4 separate regions of the Homo sapiens genome follow, and regions 1, 2 and 4 are each linked to region 3. Evidence: fine-mapped expression QTL. A gene starts in region 3. Each other region holds a variant in brackets. All regions are shown on one strand. Distances are from middle to middle. Region 1 overlaps AURKB (aurora kinase B). Region 2 overlaps PER1 (period circadian regulator 1). Region 3 holds the start of CTC1 (CST telomere replication complex component 1). Region 4 overlaps LINC00324 (long intergenic non-protein coding RNA 324).

What was found. PIP is the estimated chance that this variant, and not a neighbour inherited with it, causes the effect.
Region 1: its variant is the best candidate, but not a certain one, in a credible set for the expression of CTC1 in spleen (GTEx, PIP 0.52).
Region 2: its variant is the best candidate, but not a certain one, in a credible set for the expression of CTC1 in whole blood (INTERVAL, PIP 0.90).
Region 4: its variant is the best candidate, but not a certain one, in a credible set for the expression of CTC1 in whole blood (TOPMed, PIP 0.70).

Annotation. Positions count from the first base shown.
Region 1 is chr17:8,201,952-8,207,102 of GRCh38, reverse strand. It overlaps AURKB (aurora kinase B), which reads left to right. Exons shown (of 9, transcript NM_004217.4): 6 at 215-353; 7 at 464-612; 8 at 1,713-1,887; 9 at 2,059-2,369. The coding sequence ends at 2,232. Among named protein-coding and RNA genes, the nearest start is that of AURKB, 6.0 kb to the left of the region's middle. RefSeq lists an enhancer at 2,904-3,404. The variant T/C (reference allele first, on the strand shown) is at 2,090.
Region 2 is chr17:8,146,849-8,152,019 of GRCh38, reverse strand. PER1 (period circadian regulator 1) reads left to right here. Exons shown (of 23, transcript NM_002616.3): 2 at 1,175-1,588; 3 at 1,703-1,801; 4 at 1,895-2,049; 5 at 2,144-2,265; 6 at 2,357-2,558; 7 at 2,710-2,761; 8 at 3,234-3,376; 9 at 3,761-3,839; 10 at 3,917-4,023; 11 at 4,193-4,346; 12 at 4,442-4,550; 13 at 4,639-4,770; 14 at 5,018-5,123. The coding sequence starts at 1,314. Among named protein-coding and RNA genes, the nearest start is that of PER1, 3.0 kb to the left of the region's middle. RefSeq lists a silencer at 623-722 and enhancers at 883-992, 1,462-2,109. The variant C/T (reference allele first, on the strand shown) is at 2,923.
Region 3 is chr17:8,245,921-8,251,059 of GRCh38, reverse strand. It overlaps CTC1 (CST telomere replication complex component 1), which reads left to right and starts at 3,004. Exons shown (of 23, transcript NM_025099.6): 1 at 3,004-3,056. The coding sequence starts at 3,024. It overlaps PFAS (phosphoribosylformylglycinamidine synthase), which reads right to left and starts at 1,771. Exons shown (of 28, transcript NM_012393.3): 1 at 1,721-1,771. RefSeq lists enhancers at 1,587-2,343, 2,468-2,587, 3,068-3,207 and a silencer at 2,928-2,977.
Region 4 is chr17:8,215,615-8,220,785 of GRCh38, reverse strand. It overlaps LINC00324 (long intergenic non-protein coding RNA 324), which reads left to right. Exons shown (of 3, transcript NR_026951.1): 3 at 1-156. Among named protein-coding and RNA genes, the nearest start is that of TRW-CCA1-1, 2.7 kb to the left of the region's middle. RefSeq lists an enhancer at 1-88. The variant C/G (reference allele first, on the strand shown) is at 2,809.

The DNA.
Region 1 (5,151 bases), 44 kb after region 3:
TCCAGATTGCTTTCTCTGTAGCTATGGCTAGTGAGCCCCATTTAGCTCTTAGTCCTGGCAAGCCTTGAATCCAGAAATCTGCCTCCAGTTTCCCCTTACCACTCCCAGCCCTGGTGTCCCCGGCCTGGGCCACGTCTGACCCCAGTTTGCTCCTATCATCTTTTCCAGCTCTTTTATGCCTTTGGCCTGAGGCCTCCTCTGTCTCTTCCCCCAGCCATCCCAACATCCTGCGTCTCTACAACTATTTTTATGACCGGAGGAGGATCTACTTGATTCTAGAGTATGCCCCCCGCGGGGAGCTCTACAAGGAGCTGCAGAAGAGCTGCACATTTGACGAGCAGCGAACAGCCACGGTCCGGGCGGGTGGGCACCTGGGGCGCCAGTAGGGGGCTCGAGGCTGAGGGTGTGCTGCTTGTAGCTGGAGGTCCATCCTTGTCTGATTGCCTGTCGTTGCCCCTCCCAGATCATGGAGGAGTTGGCAGATGCTCTAATGTACTGCCATGGGAAGAAGGTGATTCACAGAGACATAAAGCCAGAAAATCTGCTCTTAGGGCTCAAGGGAGAGCTGAAGATTGCTGACTTCGGCTGGTCTGTGCATGCGCCCTCCCTGAGGTATGGTGGCCTGGGAGGCCAGACCTGGGTGTGAGGCTGGGCCATTAAAACCTCTCCAGGGGCCGTGCACCGTGGCTCACACCTGTAATCCCAGCACTTTGGGAGGCCGAGGAGGGCGGATCACCTGAGGTCAGGAGTTCGAGACTAGATTTGCCAACATGATGAAACCTTGTCTCTACTAAATATACAAAAATTAGCCGGCCATGGTGGCGGACGCCAGTAATCCCAGCTACTGGGGAGGCTGAGGCAGGAGAATTGTTTGAACCTGGGAGGCGGAGGTTGCAGTGAGCCGAGATTACGCCATTGCACTCCAGCCTGTGTGACAGATCGAGACTCTGTCTCAAAAAAAAAAAAAAAAAATGGTTAGAGTGTGGTGCTAATAACCCCAAGGTCGCAGGTTTGATCCCTGTAGGGGCCAATGGTAAAACTTTGGCCAGGCGCGGTGGCTCACGCCTACCAGTCCCAGCACTTTGGGAGGCCAAGGCGGGTGGATCACTTGAGGCCAGGAGTTCAAGACCAGCGGACCAGCCTGGCCAACATGATGAAACCCCATCTTTACTAAAAACACAAAATTTATTAAGCAGACATGGTGGTGCACACTTGTAATCCCAGCTGTTCGGGAGGCTGAGACATGAGAATCACTTGAACCCGGGAGGCAGAGGTTGCAGTGAGCCAAGATCGCCCCACTGCACTCCAGCCTGGACTCTCTCAAAAAAAGCCCGGAGCAGTGGCCTTTTTTCCTCCCACATCACTTTTTAATGGTTTCATAGTATCACATAGTAGCTGATTTATTTAACCAGAACATGCCTGATGGGCATTAGAGATGTCCCCAGTGAACTCCAAATGAACACTGCCCTCATATCAGGGTATCTTATTAAGATATATCCTTCAGTGTGGAGTTGCTGGGCTGTGTGCAGGCTCACCTCTGGGGCTTTGGGATATATCATCACCCCAACCCCACCCCCACTCCAGTGGCCTTGCCTGGCTGGACCTCTCCCCTGGTACATCCCGTGGTCTTTTGGCTCCCAGCCGTCAGGCAGCAGGGAAAGGAGAGTTCCTATGTCACTAGGACCCCTGCCCACGCCCCTTATCCCTCCCAGGAGGAAGACAATGTGTGGCACCCTGGACTACCTGCCCCCAGAGATGATTGAGGGGCGCATGCACAATGAGAAGGTGGATCTGTGGTGCATTGGAGTGCTTTGCTATGAGCTGCTGGTGGGGAACCCACCCTTTGAGAGTGCATCACACAACGAGACCTATCGCCGCATCGTCAAGGTGGGAGGGCGGCCTGGGCTTCGTGCCAGCTGCTGAAGCCAGGAGCTGGGGGGCTGGGGGTGGGCAGAGTGTATTTGCATGGCCCTAAGTAACTCCAAACAGAATGGGTAGTCAAGGAAGATGTAGCCAGGGTGAAACTAATGCAGCCCTTCCATCTCTTCACACCTGCAGGTGGACCTAAAGTTCCCCGCTTCCGTGCCCA[T/C]GGGAGCCCAGGACCTCATCTCCAAACTGCTCAGGCATAACCCCTCGGAACGGCTGCCCCTGGCCCAGGTCTCAGCCCACCCTTGGGTCCGGGCCAACTCTCGGAGGGTGCTGCCTCCCTCTGCCCTTCAATCTGTCGCCTGATGGTCCCTGTCATTCACTCGGGTGCGTGTGTTTGTATGTCTGTGTATGTATAGGGGAAAGAAGGGATCCCTAACTGTTCCCTTATCTGTTTTCTACCTCCTCCTTTGTTTAATAAAGGCTGAAGCTTTTTGTACTCATGAGTGTAGATGTTTCTAGGTGGAGGCTTTGCTGTGGAGGAAGCTGTTCCCTAGAAGGAGAGCTGGCTCACCCTGAGGAGCCGGGATGAGCATTACTTTGCTATCCCTGGTAACACCCTACCCTCTCAGCTCTGACACCCACCTGGTCAGCTCCCAGCCACCCCAACCCCTACCCCCACTTCCACCTCTACCCTCACTGTCTATTCTTTCCGTTGCTCAGACTCCCACAGCCCAGGGGCACTGGGGGCCCTGGCTCCCCATTGCTACATTGGAACACCAGCCATCTCTGGCCACCTTCTTTCACCTCTCTCTTGGTTGTCCAACTTCTAGTTTTTCCTTTTCTGTTTCATTCTCTGCCCCTTTGCCAACGTAGGAGCAACTAAACAGTTCTGTACCCTAGAAGCTGTCTTTGATTATTTCACTGCTCTGGTCAGGATCTAGTACAGGAGCCAATAGAAGCAGCAGTGATTCTGTCTTGTTCCTGACATGAGGTTACACTGTTATGCATGATGCTTGCTGTAGGTTTTTGATAGATACCCTTTATCAGGTTAAACAGGGCCTATTCTACTCATAGTTTACTCAGAGTCTTTAAAAAAAAAAACAAAAACAAAAAAACAGTTAAGTCTGGGCGCAGTGACTCATGCCTGTAATCCCTGCACTTTCAGAGGCCGAGGCAGGCAGATCACAAAGTCAGGAGATCGAGACCATCCTGGCCAACATGGTGAAATCCCATCTCTACTAAAAATACAAAAATTAGCTGAGCGTGGTGGTGCACACCTGTAGTCCCAGCTACTCAGGAAGCTGAGGCAGGAGAATCGGTTGAACCCGGGAGGTGGAGGCTGCAGCAAGACCAGATCGCACCAATGCACTCCAGCCTGGCTACACAGCAGGACGGAGTCTCACCCTGTCATGCAGGCTGGAGTGCAGTGGCCCGATCTTGGCTCACCGCAACCTCCAACCTCCTTTCAGGTTCAAGCTATTCTCCTGCCTCAGCCAGCCAAGTAGCTGGGATTACAGGCGCACGCCACCAAGCCTGGCTAATTTTTTTGTAGTTTTAGTAGAGATGGGGTTTCACCATGTTGGCCAGGCTGCTCTCGGACTCCTCACCTCAGGTGATCCACCCTCCTCGGCCTCCCAAAGTGCTGGGATTACAGGCGTACCACGCCTGGACAAGTTTTTTTTTTTTTTTTTGAAACAGAGTCTTGCTCTGTCGCCCAGGCCAGAGTGCAGTGGTGTGATCTCAGCTCACTGCAGCCTCCGCCTCCCGGGCTCAAGTGATTCTCCTGCTTCAGCCTCCCGTGTAGTTGGTATTACAGACATGTGCCACCACTCCTGGCTAATTTTTGTATTTTTAGTGGAGACCGGGTCGGGGTTTCACTGTGTTGGCCAGGCTGGTCTTGAACTCCCGACCTCAAGCAATCTGCCCACCTCGGCCTCCCAAAGTGCTGGGATTACAGGCGTGAGCCACTGCGCCTGGCAGGATTGATTGATTTTTTTTTTTTTTTCTTAATTCATTGCTTTACACCAAGCCTCTAGAACAGTACCCGGAATGTAGAGGACACTCAGTAACTACTGTCAAATGAATAAATCTAACCAAAATTATGGTGGCAGTGGGGTGGAAGAGTGAATTCCTTGAATTTTATAGCAGGAAAAAAACAGGTCATGCCTAAAACTGAAAACTTAAGAAGCAGCAACGGAAGCATGTGATTTAAAAACGTATGGTAGGGGCTGGGCGTGGTGGCTCAGGCCTGTAATCCCAACACTTTGGGAAGCCAAGGCAGGTGGATCACCTGAGGTCAGGAGTTCGAGACCAGCCTGACCAACATGGTGAAACTCTGTCTCTACTAAAAAAATACAAAATTAGCCGGGTGTGGTGGTGCACGCCTGTAATCGCAGCTACTTGGGAGTCTGAGGCAGGAGAATTGCTTAAATCCGGAAGGCAGAGGTTGCAATGAGCTGAGATCACGCCATTGCACTCCAGCCTGGGCAACAAGAGCAAGACTCCTTTTGAAAAAAAAAAAAAGAAATCTGTACTTGTACACCCTGAGAACGTAAAAATTAAAAAAATAAAAATAAAATATACGTGACTGTTGTTTAACAACTTAAAAAAAATGTATGGTAGGCCAGGCTCAGTAGGCCATGCCTGTAATCCCAGCACTTTAGGAGGCCAAGGCGGGCGGATCACGAGGTCAAGAGATCAAGACCATCCTGGCCAACATGGTCAAACCCTGCTTCTACTAAAAATACAAAAATTAGCTGGGCATGGTGGTGTGTGCCTGTAGTCCCAGCTACTAGGGAGGCTGAGGCAGGAGAATCTCTTGAACCCGGGAGACAGAGGTTGCAGTGAGCCGAGGTCAAGCCACTGCACTCCAGCCTGGCGACAAAGTGATACTCCGCCTCAAGAAAAAAAAAAGTATGGTAAATACCCAAAGCAAATCAAAATAAAACAGTGAAAAGACTTGGAACTGGCTATCTCTAGGGAGAAAGAAATGGGCGGGGTGCTTATTTATTTTTTATTTTTTGAGACGGAGTTTTGCTTTGTCACTCATGCTGGAGTGCAGTGGCACAATCTCAGCTCACTGCAACCTCCACCTCCCAGGATCAAGCGATTCTCCTGCCTCAGCCTCCCGAGTAGCTGGGATTACAGGCATGTGCCACCACGCCCAGATAATTTTTGTATTTTTAGTAGAGATGGGTTTCACCATGTTGGCCAGGCTGGTCTCAAACTCCTGACCTCCAGTGATCCACCCGTCTGGGTCTCCCAAAGTGCTGGGATTACAGG
Region 2 (5,171 bases), 99 kb after region 3:
TACCAGGACCCTATTAGGCTTTCAGCGCTCCCCGTGTCTCTGTTCTCCAGTCCCTGGCCCTGCGCCGCCTGTGATGTCAGCCCACTTCGGACTAGAACATCCCGTTCCCAGCGCTGGTTCCTGCTGTTGGCCACAACCTTCCCTTTTCCCCTGGCGCTCAGAAAATGCTCAGTAGTAGGGGTGTGGTTGGACGGGGAGTAGGGGAAGAAAGATCTGTTGGCTGTTGTGTGTCTTCTGCCCAAGGCTTGGGGTTGGTGGGGGGGTCTGGCCAGAAAAGTAGGGGACTGAAGAGAGAGGATCCTCGGGTCCTTGACGATGGCAGGTTGCCGGCTTCGGTCCTTGTGGTGGGGAAGCAGCGCAGGGGCTAAAGAAGGAAAGGTTGTGTTGTCTTGACCAGAATGACTGGGATCCAGGCGAGAGTCAGGTTGAGGGGCTTTTGCGCCGAGGGCAGTGGCCGTTGTGCTTCGTCCTGGGGAAGCCAGGACCAACCCTGGGATCCTAATAGGCCGTCCCACTTCTTACGGCCACCGAGCCATCCTGGGACTGGGGATATGTAAGGGATGCGTGACCCCCCCGGCCGCGCCCACCAGTGTGAGAGTGGGCCGTTCCCCCACTTCCGCCGGGAAATGGGGGAGGGGTCGCTCCTCCCGCCCTCCTGTGGTCCCTCCAGCAACCGCTGAGCTCAGCAGCTGACGTCGGTTTCCCTGGCGACCGTGGCGGCGGCGGAAGCGCGTGGTGGGGCCGCGCACGTCGGCGCGCATGTGCAGCGGGGGTGGCACCGCCCCCGGATAAAATTAGCCTGGAGGCCTAAATATAGGAGGCGACCAGCTCACCTCCTGCTCCGAGGCCTTGGAGGCCCAGGCAGAGTGGACACCTAATGGGAACTTGGGAATGGGAAGTGTCCAGGTTTTTGTCTACAGCCGTGGTTCTCATTGACTGCTCAGGCCATGGTGGCAGGGGATGTGAAGGAAGGCCCCGGAGAACCTTCTCCCGCTGGCAGTCCCCCTAAGGGTACAGGAGACATCCTGACTCCCCATTGGAAGCCCCAGGCCTGGGTTCCACTCCCATCAGTCCTGCAGGAGGCCAGGCAGGGGGAAGGTCTGAGTGAAGCCAGCAGGTGCTCTGGAGTTAAACCAGCTTTCTGCAAGCCCTGCTTCCTGGTCTCCCTCTCCAGGTACTGGCTGTGATCGAACTTCTCAACCCTCAGAGACTTAGATCTTCCACCTCACTCCCTCAGCCAAGCCTCCAGGCCCCCTCGTGCATCCGTGGTGGCCTCTCTGCCTTCTCTGTTCTGTTCTCCCCATGGCCCAGACATGAGTGGCCCCCTAGAAGGGGCTGATGGGGGAGGGGACCCCAGGCCTGGGGAATCATTTTGTCCTGGGGGCGTCCCATCCCCTGGGCCCCCACAGCACCGGCCTTGCCCAGGCCCCAGCCTGGCCGATGACACCGATGCCAACAGCAATGGTTCAAGTGGCAATGAGTCCAACGGGCATGAGTCTAGAGGCGCATCTCAGCGGAGCTCACACAGCTCCTCCTCAGGCAACGGCAAGGACTCAGCCCTGCTGGAGACCACTGAGAGCAGCAAGAGGTGTGTATGGATGTGTATGTTGGGTCTAGGAATGGTCTTGTGAGCAGGCAGAGCTGGGTGACAGGCCTCGCACTGCTGGCCCTACCTGTAACTGGGCCTGTTGCTGTCTCCTAGCACAAACTCTCAGAGCCCATCCCCACCCAGCAGTTCCATTGCCTACAGCCTCCTGAGTGCCAGCTCAGAGCAGGACAACCCGTCCACCAGTGGCTGCAGGTACGTCGGGTGAGGCTGGAGGAGAGGTCTGGGGGCCCAGGCCACACTCTGGGACTAATGTCTTTATCTCTTTCTTCCCTGTGGGCCCCGCAGCAGTGAACAGTCAGCCCGGGCAAGGACTCAGAAGGAACTCATGACAGCACTTCGAGAGCTCAAGCTTCGACTGCCGCCAGAGCGCCGGGGCAAGGGCCGCTCTGGGACCCTGGCCACGCTGCAGTACGCACTGGCCTGTGTCAAGCAGGTGCAGGGTAAGTGGTGTGTCCCAAGAGGGAATGGCCTGGGCCTGGGCTCCCGTGTTGAGGCAGCCTCCTTACTGAATGCCTCACTGCCTCCACTCTGCAGCCAACCAGGAATACTACCAGCAGTGGAGCCTGGAGGAGGGCGAGCCTTGCTCCATGGACATGTCCACCTATACCCTGGAGGAGCTGGAGCACATCACGTCTGAGTACACACTTCAGAACCAGGTCAGCGGCGGCCTGGCCTCTGCATCCCGACGCACCCCTACTCCTTCTCCCACAGCTCTTGAATCTGCTCTTGCTCTCCCCCTCCTGCCAGGATACCTTCTCAGTGGCTGTCTCCTTCCTGACGGGCCGAATCGTCTACATTTCGGAGCAGGCAGCCGTCCTGCTGCGTTGCAAGCGGGACGTGTTCCGGGGTACCCGCTTCTCTGAGCTCCTGGCTCCCCAGGATGTGGGAGTCTTCTATGGTTCCACTGCTCCATCTCGCCTGCCCACCTGGGGCACAGGGGCCTCAGCAGGTGAGGTGCCCAAGCGCTGTGGGGAGGCATGAGCAGTCCCAGGAAATTCCTGCTGTGAGGGGCCGGGGAACCCAGACTTTCCCTTAGTGGATTCTTCGCAGCCTAGGGAAGGGGCAGGAAGCTGTGCTCACTCCTCTCCTGTCTGTCCCAGGTTCAGGCCTCAGGGACTTTACCCAGGAGAAGTCCGTCTTCTGCCGTATCAGGTAGGTGAGGGGAACTGGAGAAGACCTCTGCCTCCTTTTTTTTTTGTTTTTGTTTTTGTTTTTGCTTTTTGAAAGGGAGTCTCACTCTGTCACCCAGGCTGGACTGCGGTGGCACGATCTCGGCTCACTGCAACCTCCGCCTCCCAGGTTCAAGCGATTCT[C/T]CTGCCTCAGCCTCCCAAGTAGCTGGGATTACAGGCATGCGCCACCACGCCCAGCTAATTTTTGTATTTTCAGTAGAGACGGGGTTTCACCATGTTGGCCAGGCTGGTCTCGAACTCCTGACCTCAGGTGATCCGCCTGCCTTGGCCTCCCAAAGTGCTGGGATTAAAGGCGTGAGCCACCGTGCCCGGCCTACCTCTGCCTCCTCCTGCCCCCTCCCCAGCGTCTTTGCTGTTGTCTGCTGTGACCTTATTGTTGGAGGAGTGGGTGGCTCTCTGTTGAAAGTCCCTAATGCTCCTCTCTCCTTTGCTAGAGGAGGTCCTGACCGGGATCCAGGGCCTCGGTACCAGCCATTCCGCCTAACCCCGTATGTGACCAAGATCCGGGTCTCAGATGGGGCCCCTGCACAGCCGTGCTGCCTGCTGATTGCAGAGCGCATCCATTCGGGTTACGAAGGTGGGCAGGTCAGGGCCCTGGCCTGGTGGGGGCTGGGAGGAAGGACATTTCCTCATGGCCAGACATGAATTTGGGAGGCATGAACCACACCCTTTGAATTTTGGAACAAGAAAAGCTATTGTAAAGATGAGGATTTGAGCTCCTCTTAGAGGTAGAGTTGAATAAGGTGCCCAAGCTAGAGGAGGGCAGAGAAGAATGCCTTGCTTGCTCTCAGTCATGTTACTGATACAGGGCATAGGATTGGCCCAGACCATCTTTGGGCCCATAGTGCCCGGGGCAGAGCTGTGTGGCAGATCATCAGCCAGCCTGGGCCCAGGCAGAGTGGAGGGCTGAGGAGTTGGGCATTCTGGACGAAACCCAGTGACCACACTCTCTGTGCCTCAGCTCCCCGGATACCCCCTGACAAGAGGATTTTCACTACGCGGCACACACCCAGCTGCCTCTTCCAGGATGTGGATGAAAGGTGAGGATAGGACCTAGAGGAGACGAGGGCAGCCAGGGCTGAGGCCACGGCCACTCTGATGCCTCCTTCCCGTTCAGGGCTGCCCCCCTGCTGGGCTACCTGCCCCAGGACCTCCTGGGGGCCCCAGTGCTCCTGTTCCTGCATCCTGAGGACCGACCCCTCATGCTGGCTATCCACAAGAAGAGTGAGTTCCTCTCGCCCTGCTCGCCCTTCCCACTGTCCTGGGCTTTTGAGTGGCTGCCCTTGTGGTTGTGTCTCTTGGTGCCTTGGTCTCCTGGATCTCTAGTGGCATGGCCTCCCTCTTACTCAGCTCTCCCTCCCTTTGACCGCTCCTCCTTTCCCACTTCCATCAGTTCTGCAGTTGGCGGGCCAGCCCTTTGACCACTCCCCTATCCGCTTCTGTGCCCGCAACGGGGAGTATGTCACCATGGACACCAGCTGGGCTGGCTTTGTGCACCCCTGGAGCCGCAAGGTAGCCTTCGTGTTGGGCCGCCACAAAGTACGCACGTAAGTGGGCCATGCCCCCGAGCTGGCGTTGGGGATAGGGCAGTGCGGTGGGGGACAGGACCGGGCCAGGGCTGGATTCACTCTTCACTCTACAGGGCCCCCCTGAATGAGGACGTGTTCACTCCCCCGGCCCCCAGCCCAGCTCCCTCCCTGGACACTGATATCCAGGAGCTGTCAGAGCAGATCCACCGGCTGCTGCTGCAGGTGAGAGTAGCGGAGAGGGAGCCTGGGAGGTGAGAAAAGGTGTGGGAAGCCGGGTCAAGCCATCTAACCTGCCCTCTCCCTGCTGCAGCCCGTCCACAGCCCCAGCCCCACGGGACTCTGTGGAGTCGGCGCCGTGACATCCCCAGGCCCTCTCCACAGCCCTGGGTCCTCCAGTGATAGCAACGGGGGTGATGCAGAGGGGCCTGGGCCTCCTGCGCCAGTGAGTGACCTGCTCCTACCTCACCCTCTAATCGCCCTTTCCCCTCTCCTTCTTGGAACCAGCACTGCCAGTCCCAGAGTCTTGCCCGATCCTCCTTTGCCCTCTCCTTCCTGCCTTTTCCTTCTTGTCCTGCTCCCATCAAGGCGTCTGTGCCTCCCCACTGGTACCTTCTTGTTTTATTGTGCCCTTGGCCCCTGACACTGGCGACACCCCCTGGTTCTGCTCACTGTGGTGCTGTGTCCCACAGGTGACTTTCCAGCAGATCTGTAAGGATGTGCATCTGGTGAAGCACCAGGGCCAGCAGCTTTTTATTGAGTCTCGGGCCCGGCCTCAGTCCCGGCCCCGCCTCCCTGGTGAGTTGATGATGATGTGTGGGTGAAGAGACAGACCTGGGGGGTCCC
Region 3 (5,139 bases):
CACCTCAGCCTCCCAAAGTGCTGGGATTATAGGCGTGAGCGACTGCGCCAGGCAGACCTCATCTTTCAAATTAAAAAAAATAAAAAAAAAAAAAGACTCCCACAGTGGAACCAAGTGAGCATGAGAATCAGTTTCTTCATCTCCCTGTTTCATGACCTCACCCTGCACTCTTCAATCAATGATTTTCACACTTCATCCTAATCCTATTCCAAACTCTTTTTTAAAAACCCTAGCCCCAAAGTACTCTGGGAGATGGATTTGAGGTTTCCTCCTGTCTCCTTGTTCAGCAGCCCTATGATTAAACCTCTTTCTCTGCTGCAACCTGGTGTCTTGGTGTATTGACCTCCAGTGTGCATCAGGCAACAGAACTATTACAGTTAATACTTTTAGCCTAACATTCAAAGGCCCTCCCCATCTATCCCAAACTACCTATCCAATTTCTGGTCCCACTGCCTCTCAGCGGGACCCTGGCTTTACTCACCAAACTCTGCTGTTCCCCTAGTCTTGCCACTCAGTAAACACTACCATCATCCAATTTGTTGCTCAAGACAAAAACACAGAAGTCATCCTTAATTCTCTTTCCCTCAGACTCTCTAAATCCAATCCACCAGGAAATCTATTTCCAATCATGTCTCAAATCTCTCATCTCTTCATCTCTACTACCTCACTCTAGTTCAAGTAAGCCACCACCATCACTCACCTGGACCAATGCATTAACCTCCTGACCACTGCATAACCACAATTCATTTGTCACACATCAGCATAAAGTGGATTATGGCTTCCCATTACACATGGTATAAATTCCAACTCAGCATCCTGGTTTACCAAGTCTGGCCACTCTCTGGCCTACCTTTCCAACCCTATCTCACACCATTCTCTTTTTCACCCACAATGCACCAACCACACATTAGCTTCTTTTTTATTTCTCTAACTTGCCAAGCTCAGTCCTGGAAGGCATTTTTTTCACCCTGACATATGCATGGCTAGCTCTTGTTATTTAGATTTCTGGTGATTCGCCTTCGTGGAAAAGGCTTCACTAGCCACTCAAGTAGTTACTATCAGATGGCCGGCCCTATTTTAATTTCCTGTAAAGCGCTTATCACTATTGGATGTTTTTATTTTTCGCTCTATATTCCCCACTAGAAAAAAAATCTCTACGTGGGCATGGGATGTTGCTGCTTCGTTTCCATTGAATTACCAAGGCTTAGAACAATACCAGGGCTTGAAACGCAAAAAAATTCTAAAACTTGTGGAATGACTTAATGAACTCTTGATTCTCACCACTCTTCAGCCCCTCCCCAACTTTCAGGACAGTCTTCCTGAAGGCATTTTGTTTATTAAGCCACTTGATTTCCGTCTATCATTCCCAGTAAAATATAAGCTTCAAGAGCTCAGAGACAGGGTTTGCGTGCATGAGGGCTGTATTCCATGACCAGCATGGTGCCTGATATAAAGTAGGCGGCCGGCAGTCTTTCTGTTAGCTGAATCCATGAATGGGACAATGGGGCTAAATTTACATGGGGGTCGGCCATGCCTGGGGTCTGCGGAACGCACGCAAGATAGGACGAATGGACGCCTCCACTAAAGCAAATACGCGGGCACCAAGTAGACACAGCTCGGCCCGGTGGGGATACTGAAGCCGCCAGACCAAGCTTGGGCTAGATGACGAAACGCTGCACCTGGAGGAGGATCCAGGTCCGCACGCGGTAACTATACTCACGTGGAAGATGCACTCGCGGCCACAGAGCACCTCGAATCGTCGCGCGCGTTTGTTACGTCATCCGCGTGCGCCGCGGGCAGAGACTGGACCTGCCAGCGCCGGGGCGACTACGCCCCGCCCACTTTTCCCCAGCCACCCGGCCGAATTCTAGGTTCTTGGTGGGGAGAGGTTTATCCCCAGGTGGTTTCTCCCACAAATCTGTCTTGAACTGACGTTTGTGAAAATACATTCAGTTCCCCGTCCCCGCGGGGACAGTTAAGTAATGACATCAGTTAGTTAAGGCCATAAAGCAAGCATGTGAAAGTTGTGCTTTGGTGGCATTACGAGGAAGCCCTTCTCTGCTTGGCAAGATCAGGGAGACTGAAAGATGCTTAGAAGTCATCCACCAGGCGGGCTGTGTTTGAGTTCCTGAGCTCTGCTACCCCATCCATCTGAAGGCCTGCGGGATGCCGGACAGGATGTCACTTAGGAGGGAGACGGAGGCTGGGCGCGGTGGCTCCCGCCTGTAATCCGAGCACTTTGGGAGCCCGAGGCGGGCAGATCGCTTGAGCCCAGGAGTTCGAGACCAGTCTGGGCAACATGGCGAAACCATGTCGCTACAGAAAAATACAAAAATTAGCCGGGTGTGGCGGTGCAAGCCTGCGATCCCAGCTACTTGGTGGGCTGAGGTGGGAGGATCGCTTGAGCCCGGGAGGTCGAGGCTGCAGTGAACCGAGATGGCGCCGCTGCACTCCAGCCTGGGCGATAGAGCGAGACCTCGTCTCAAAAAAATCAGAGAGGGCCAGGGGCTGTGTTTCACGCCTGTAATCCCAGCACTTTGGGAGGCTGAGGCGGGTGGATCACCTGAGGTCAGGAGTTTGAGACCAGCCTGGCCACATGGTGAAACCCCGTCTCTACTAAAAATACAAAAAAAAAAAAAAAAAAAAAAATTAGCCGGGCGTGGTGGTGGCAGGTGCCTGTAATCCTAGCTACTCAGGAGGCTGAGGCCGGAAAATCCCTTGAACCTGGGAGGCGGGGGTTGCAGTGAGCCGAGATCGCGCCACTGCACTCCAGCCTGGGCGACAGAACCAGGCTTCGTCTTAAAAAAAAAAAAATCAGAGAAAAGAGACAGGGGTGTCGGGAGTTGGGATGGTGCACCGAGGCGCCTCGCGGAGTCTCTAGGAAGCGAGGGGGTGAGCAGCGAGAAGGAGCTGGAGGTGGCGAGGAAACCCGCTCACCGGTGACGTCACCGAGCGCCCCCCCACCCCCATCCCCACCCCCAAGCGAGCACCTGCCCCTCCCGGGGGCGGAGCTCCGGCGCATCATGGCGGCTGGCCGGGCCCAGGTCCCTTCCTCCGTGAGTGCTGCTATTACGTCTCTTGTTCCTTTTTTCTTGTTTGTCACAGATACTCTTTCTCTTCCTATTTCCTCTGCCTTGTCTCTCTGGGCTCGCTGGCCGCGTCCGGCCCATGGGTGAGGGGGTTGTGAGTCGGTCCGCTCCTACCTCTTACTGGTTCTGCGAATGTTTATTCCCTCATTCACGCGGCGCCCGCTGTGAGCCTTAAACTGGTCTCCGTTCACTCTCTAGGGTTTAATCCTGGTGGGAAACCAGGAGCAGGTTAATGGGGGAACTATGGGGCTGTGGGTTCCTGGAGAAGACCCTTGACGGAGCTGTAGGGGAAAAGGGCAACCATAATAAGTAAAAGCGTCTGAGACCCGAAGTGCGTGTAGAAGGCAAAAAGCGCCGAAAGGGGCTGGGTGTGGTGGCTCACGCTTGTAATCCAGCACTGTGGGAGGCGGAGGCGGGCGGATTACTTGAGGTCAGGAGTTCGAGACCAGCCTGACCAACATGGTGAAACCTCATCTCTACTAAAAATACAAAAATTAGCCGGGCGTGGTGGCGCGCACCTGTAATTCCAGCTACTCAGAAGGTTGAGGCAGGAGAATCGCTTGAACCGGGTAGACGGAGGCTGCAGTGAGCTGAGATTGTGCCACAGCACTCCAGCCTGGGCAACAGAGCGAGACTCTGTCAAAAAAAAAAAAAAAAAAAAAAAAGCGCCGGAAGGGGTTTCAGGACGGAAGCAAACACATATTCAAAGGCAGGAGGATAGAGCAGGTGTCTGAAAAACTCAAAAGTTCAGTTGGGTGGTGGTGGAGGGGTCAGAGCTGACAGTTTTGTACCTCTTGCTAAGCAGCGACTTTAACATGAGGGTAATTGGGTGTGGTGGCACACGCCGGTAATCCCAGCTGCTCAGGAAGCTGAGCAGGGAACCACGGAAGTGGAGGTTGCAGTGAGCCGAGATCGCGCCACTGCACTCTAGCCTGGACGACAGAGCCAGACTCCATCTCAAATAAATAAATAAATAAATAAATAAATAAATAAATAAATAAATAAGATGTTAAGAAAATACAATCTAAAGGATTGGTTTGTGTGCGTGTGTGTGTGTGTGTGTTTTGAGACGGAGTCTAGCTTTGTCACCAGGCTGGAGTGCAGTGACGCGATCTCGGCTCACTGCAACCTCTGCCTCCCAGGTTCAAGCGATTCTTCTGCCTCAGCCTCCCGAGTAGCTGGAATTACAGGCATACAGGCACGCGCCGCCATGCCCAGCTCATTTTTGTATTTTTTTTCTTTTTTTTAAGTACAGACGGTGTTTCACCATGTTAGCCAGGATGGTCTCGATCTCCTGACGTCGTGATCTGCCCGCCTTGGCCTCCGAAACTGCTGGGATTACAGGCGTGAGCCACTGCACCCAGCCAGGACTGGGACCTATGTAGGGAAAGGAAGGAGCTAAGGAGGACATCTAGGTTTCAGGATAGAACAACTGTTTGGTTAAGGGTACTATTTGCTAAGTTAGTGAACATAACACTAGAAGAGTTCTAGAAAAGGACAGGGTTTTGTGGAAAGTTCAGTGTTGGGCATGTGTGCTGCCTGTGGATTGGCCATGGAGAGTCTGGCAGATGGATAGGACTAAAGCTCAGGAATGAGATCTCAGCTAAAGTAGACATACAGGAACAATCATCATCTGGCCATGGCTGTTAAACCCATGCAGTGGTTGAGATAATTGTGGGAAAGCATATTGTGTTCTTAAACTTCAGCCTGTATTAATCTGGATCTTCCTCTTCCTCCCTCCTTTTTTTTTTTTTTTTTTTTTTTGAAACAAGGTCTTACTCTGTCACCCAGGCTAGAGTGCAGTGGCACCATCATGGCTCACTGCAGCCTCAACCTCCCTGGGCTCAAGCGATCCTCCCACCTCAGCCTCCCAAGTAGCTGGGACTACTGGCGTGTGCTACCACGCCAGGCTAACCCAGCTAATTTTGAATTGTTTTAGAGTTTCACCATGTTGCCCAGGCGGGTCTCAACCTTCCCAGGCTAAGGTGATCCTCCCACCTCAGCCTCCCAAGTAGCTGGGACTACTGGCATGTGCTACCACGCCAGGCTA
Region 4 (5,171 bases), 30 kb after region 3:
GGATAGGAGGGGAATGAGACAAATATGAACGTTATTCAGAAGTTGGGTGCAGACTTTCAACATTATGTGATATATCCCTGTGGCAAAACTGCGCATGTATCCCTAAGGTCTATAAAAGTAAAAATAAATTTAAAAATAAAAAAATTCCCTGTTGTATGGAAATTGTTAAATAATTTTTTAAATTATTATTTTTTGTTTGTATTTTTTTTTCCCTTGAGACGGAGTTTCTCTCTTGTTGCCCAGGCTGGAATGCAATGGCACTATCGCGGCTCACCGCAACCTCCGCCCACGGGTTCAAAGGGATTCTCCTGCCTCAGCGTCCCGAGTAGCTGGGATTACAGGCATGCACCACCACGCCCGGATAATTTTGTATTTTAGTGGCGTGAGCCACTGTGCCCGGCCTTTTTAAATGTTTTTAATAATCTCTGCTGTTCTAGGTATGTTTACTTAACACTGAACACAAGGATATTAAATACAAATATTACCTTTCTCCAGACTTCCCAGCAGTCACTAGAAGCCCAGGACCACGTGCATTTTGGCTGCTTCCAGTATATTGAAAAACAAAACCGGTGGGATGGGATGGCTCACGCCTGTAATCCCAGCACTTAGGGAGGCCCAGGCGGGCAGATCACGAAGTCAAGAGATCAAGACCATCCTGGCCAACTTGGTGAAACCCCGTCTCTACTAAAAACTACAAAAATCAGCTGGGCGTGGTGGCGCATGCCTGTAGTCCCAGCTACTTGGGAGGCTGAGGCAGGAGAATCGCTTGAACCCCGGAGGCAGAGGTTGCAGTGAGCGGAGATTGGCACCACTACACTCCAGCCTGGCGACAGAGGGACACTCTCTCTCAAAAAAAAAAAAAAAAAAAGAAAGAAAGAAAAAGAAAAAGAAAGAAAGAAATCCAGGCCACCCACCCTATATGCCTTGTCTTTTCCAATGGGAAATTTATTCCCTTCACCTCTCTCTCCTCCACTAACAATACCTTTCTAAGTGTGACTGGCTTTGGTTGATGGGGAAGAATTTGGGCCATCTCACCACCATCCACACAGCAGACATTGCCCAGGTTAAAATCTGTGCTCCGCTTTCCTTCCCCTTTCTTGCCCCTGCCCACCTTCTGCCATAGCTGTCTCTGTGTCACTGTATCACTATGTACAAGACAAAGGCAGACAGTTGACCAGTCCTTGCAGAAATGGTGCTTGAAGAACTGCTGATGACCTGAGCAAGGTAACAGCATAGAAACTCTGGCGACCTAAGGCGGAGCTGGCTGTGAGGCTGGCTACCAAGCAGTCCCACCACCATTCTCACTGCCAGGGCAACCAGAAAACCTTGCCTGCATTAATTATTTCATAAGGAGATGCAAAATGATCATTTCCTAATTCTATCATTTTGTGTACATTTATTAGCTGAAACACACACACAGATATATTCGTAACAAAATAAAGAAGAAATACAGCCAGGTGTGGTGGCTCACGCCCGTAATCCCAGCACTTTGGGATGCCGAGGTGGGCAGATCACCTGAGGTCAGGAGTTTGAGACCAGCCTGGCCAACATGGTGAAACCCCGTCTCTACTCAAAATACAAAAAAAATTAACCAGGCATGGTGGCACATGCCTGTAATCCTAGCTACTTAGGAGGCTAAGGCAGGAGAATCACTTGAGCTTGGGAGGCGGAGGTTGCAGTGAGCTGAGATCATGCCATTACACTCCAACCTGGGCGACAGATTGACGCTCCGTCTCAAAAAAAAAAAAAAAAAGGAAATACACTTACAGTCCTTGTTTCTCTAACTGGCCACGTAGTGGTAGCTGATAACTAGCTGCTGCTGCTGCTGCTGCTTCTTTTTTTTTTTTTTTTTTCTTGAGATGGAGTCTCGCTCTGTCACTCAGGTTGGAGTGCAGTAGAGTGCAGGTGATCCACCCATCTCGGCCTCCCAAAGTGCTGGGATTACAGGCGTGACCCACTGTGCACAGCCTTTTTTTTATATTTTTAGTAGAGACGGGGTTTCATCATGTTGGCCAGGCTGGTCTCGAACTCCTGACCTCAGGTGATCCTCCCGCCTCAGCCCCCTAAAATGCTGGGAATAAAGGTATGAGCCACCGCACCTGGCCTAACTAGCTTCTTCTATTACCCATTTTGTCTTCCCATTGTCTTCAACAAGCCCCTCAACTGGTCCTGGTTATTTCCCTCGTAGGGAGACCCAAACCTTGTTCCTGAAGGGTCTAAGCCACTAGTAGTCCTATCTGAACTGAGTGCTTCCGCTTGTAGTTTTCCACTGACCTTAGAATCTGTATTAGTCTGCTCAGGCTACCATAACAAAATGCCGTAGACTGCGTGGCTTAAACAACAGATATTTATTTTCTCACTGTTCTGGAGGCTCAAAGTCCAAGATCAAGATGTTATCAGGGTTGGTGTCTGCTGAGGCCTCTCTTGCCGGCTTCTACATGCCGCCTTCTTGCAGTGTCCTCACATGGCCTTTCCTCTGTGCCGACAGGGAAAGAGAGAACTCTGGAGTCTCTCCCTCTTCTCCTAAGGATGCCAGCCCTGTAGGATTAGGATTCCACTCAAATGACCTCATTTAACCTTAACTACCTCCCTAAAGCTGTGTCTAGAAATACATTTACATTGGGTGTTAAAGCTTTATCATATGGATTTTGGAGAAACACAATTTCATCCATAACAACCACAGAAGAAAATGGTAGAGAAACAATATACCTAGACCTAATTCTTGAAAATATTTTTTTTTTGAGACGGAGTCTCTGTCTGTCGCCTAGGCTGGAGTGCAGTGGCGTGATCTCGGCTCACTGCAAGCTC[C/G]GCCTCCTGGGTTCACGCCATTCTCCTGCCTCAGCCTCCCTAGTAGCTGGGACTACAGGCACCCGCTATCACGCCCGGCTAATTTTTTTTTTGTATTTTTAGTAGAGACGGGGTTTCACCGTCTTAGCCAGGATGGTCTCGATCTCCTGACCTCGTGATCCACCCACCTCGGCCTCCCAAAGTGCTGGGATTTCAGGCATGAGCCACAGCGCCCGGCCTACTTCTTGAAATTTTACTGACCGGGCCTGGTGGCTCATGCCTGTAATCCTAGCACTTTGGGAGGCCGAGACGGGTGGATCACGAGGTCAGGAGATCGAGACCATTCTGGCTAACACGGTGAAACCTCGTCTCTACTAAAAATACAAAAAAAAAAAAAAAAAATAGCCAGGCGTGGTGGCGGGTGCCTGTAGTCCCAGCTACTAGGGAGGCTGAGGCAGAAGAATGGCGTGAACCCGGGAGGCGGAGCTTGCAGTGAGCTAAGATCGCGCCACCGCACTCCACCCTGGGGGACAGAGCGACACTCCGTCTCAAAAAAAAAAAAAAGAAATTTTACACTGGAACTCCACCTGTATGCCTTTTAGTTCATTTAAAAAAACATCATAAACAAATATAGCAAAATGTGTTAAGATTTGACTAATTTAATAGCAGTCACACAAGTGCCTTTAAAGTGTATTCCTGGATGGGTGTGGCGGCTCACGCCTGTAATCCCAGCACTTTGGAAGGCCAAGGTGGGTGGATCACCTGAGGTCAGGAGTTCGAGACCAGCCTGGTGAAAATGAGGAAACCCCTGTCTGTACTAAAAATACAAAAATTAGCTAGGCATGGTGGCCCACGCCTGTAATCCTGGGAGGCAGAGGTTGCAGTGAACCAAGATCACCCCATTGCACTCCAGCCTGGGCGACAAGAGCAACACTGTGTCTCAAAAAAAAAAAAAAAAAAAATTAGCCAGAATGGTGGCGGGCGCCTGTAATCCCAGCTACTTGGGAAGCTGAGGCAAGAGAATCGCTTGAACCGGGGAGGCAGAGGTTGCAGTGAACTGAGATTGCACTGCTGCACTCCAGCCTGGGCAACAAGAGTGAAACTCCATTTCAAAATAATAATAATAAGGCCGGGCGTGGTGGCTCATGCCTGTAATCCCAGCTCTCATGGAGGCAGAGGTGGGAGGATAGCTTGAGCCCAGGAGTTCGAGACCTGCTTGGGCAATATAGCGAGACCCTGTTCTCCACAAAAAGGAAGAAAAAAAAGACAAAATAATAATAATAATAAATAAATAAAAAAGAGCCGGGAGCGGTGGCTTCAGGCCTGTAATCCCAGCACTTTGGGAGGCTGCAGCAGGCGGATCACGAGGTCAGGAGTTCGAGAACAGCCTGACCAACATGGTGAAACCCCATCTCTACTAAAAATACAAAAATTAGCTGGGCATGGTGGCACACGCCTGTAGTCCCACCTACTTGGGAAGCTGAGGCAGGAGAATCACTTGAACGCAGGAGGCAGAGGTTGTGGTGAGCTGAGATCATCATGCCACTGCATTCCAGTCTGGGAAACAGAGCAAGACTCCATCTCAAAAAAAAAAAAGATATTTTATAATTTTTTGTGGTAAATTATACTTAACATAAATTTTACCATTTTAACCATTTTAAAGTGTACAATTAAGAGTTTCTGGTATATTCTCACAGTGGTGCATCAATCATCACTATTTAATTCCAGAACATTTTAATCACCCCCCCCCCAAAAAGAAACCATTGGCACTCACTCTGTATTCCCCCTTCTCCCTTCCCCTAGTCTCTGGAAACCACTAATCTGTTTCTGTCCCAGTGGATTTGCTTATGCTGGATATTATGCTGGATATCGCATGTAAATGCAATCATATAATATGTGAACTTTCTATCTTTTTTTTTTTTTTTTGACGGAGTCTTGCTCTGTTGCCCAGGCTGGAGTGCAATGGCACGATCTTGGCTCACTGCAACCTGTGCCTCTTGGGTTCAACGGCTCTCCTGCCTCAGCCTCCTGAGTAGCTGGGACTACAGGTGCCCACCACCACACCTGGCTAATGTTTGTATTTTTTGTAGAGACGGGATTTCGCCATGTTGCCCAGGCTGGTCTGGAACTTCTGGGCTCAAGGGATCTGCCCACCTTAGCCTTCCAAAGTGCTGGGACTACAGCCATGAGCTGCTGTGCTCAGCTTAGCCTCTTTTGTTTATACTGTTTTCATGGTTTCCATGAAATAAAATATCAGTACTTCATTCCTCTTAGGACTAAGTAAGTTTCTATTTTATGGATATATGACATTTTGTTTATTCATTCACCAGTTGATGGACATTTGGGCTGCTTCCAACTTTTGGCTGTTGTGAATAACGCTGCTT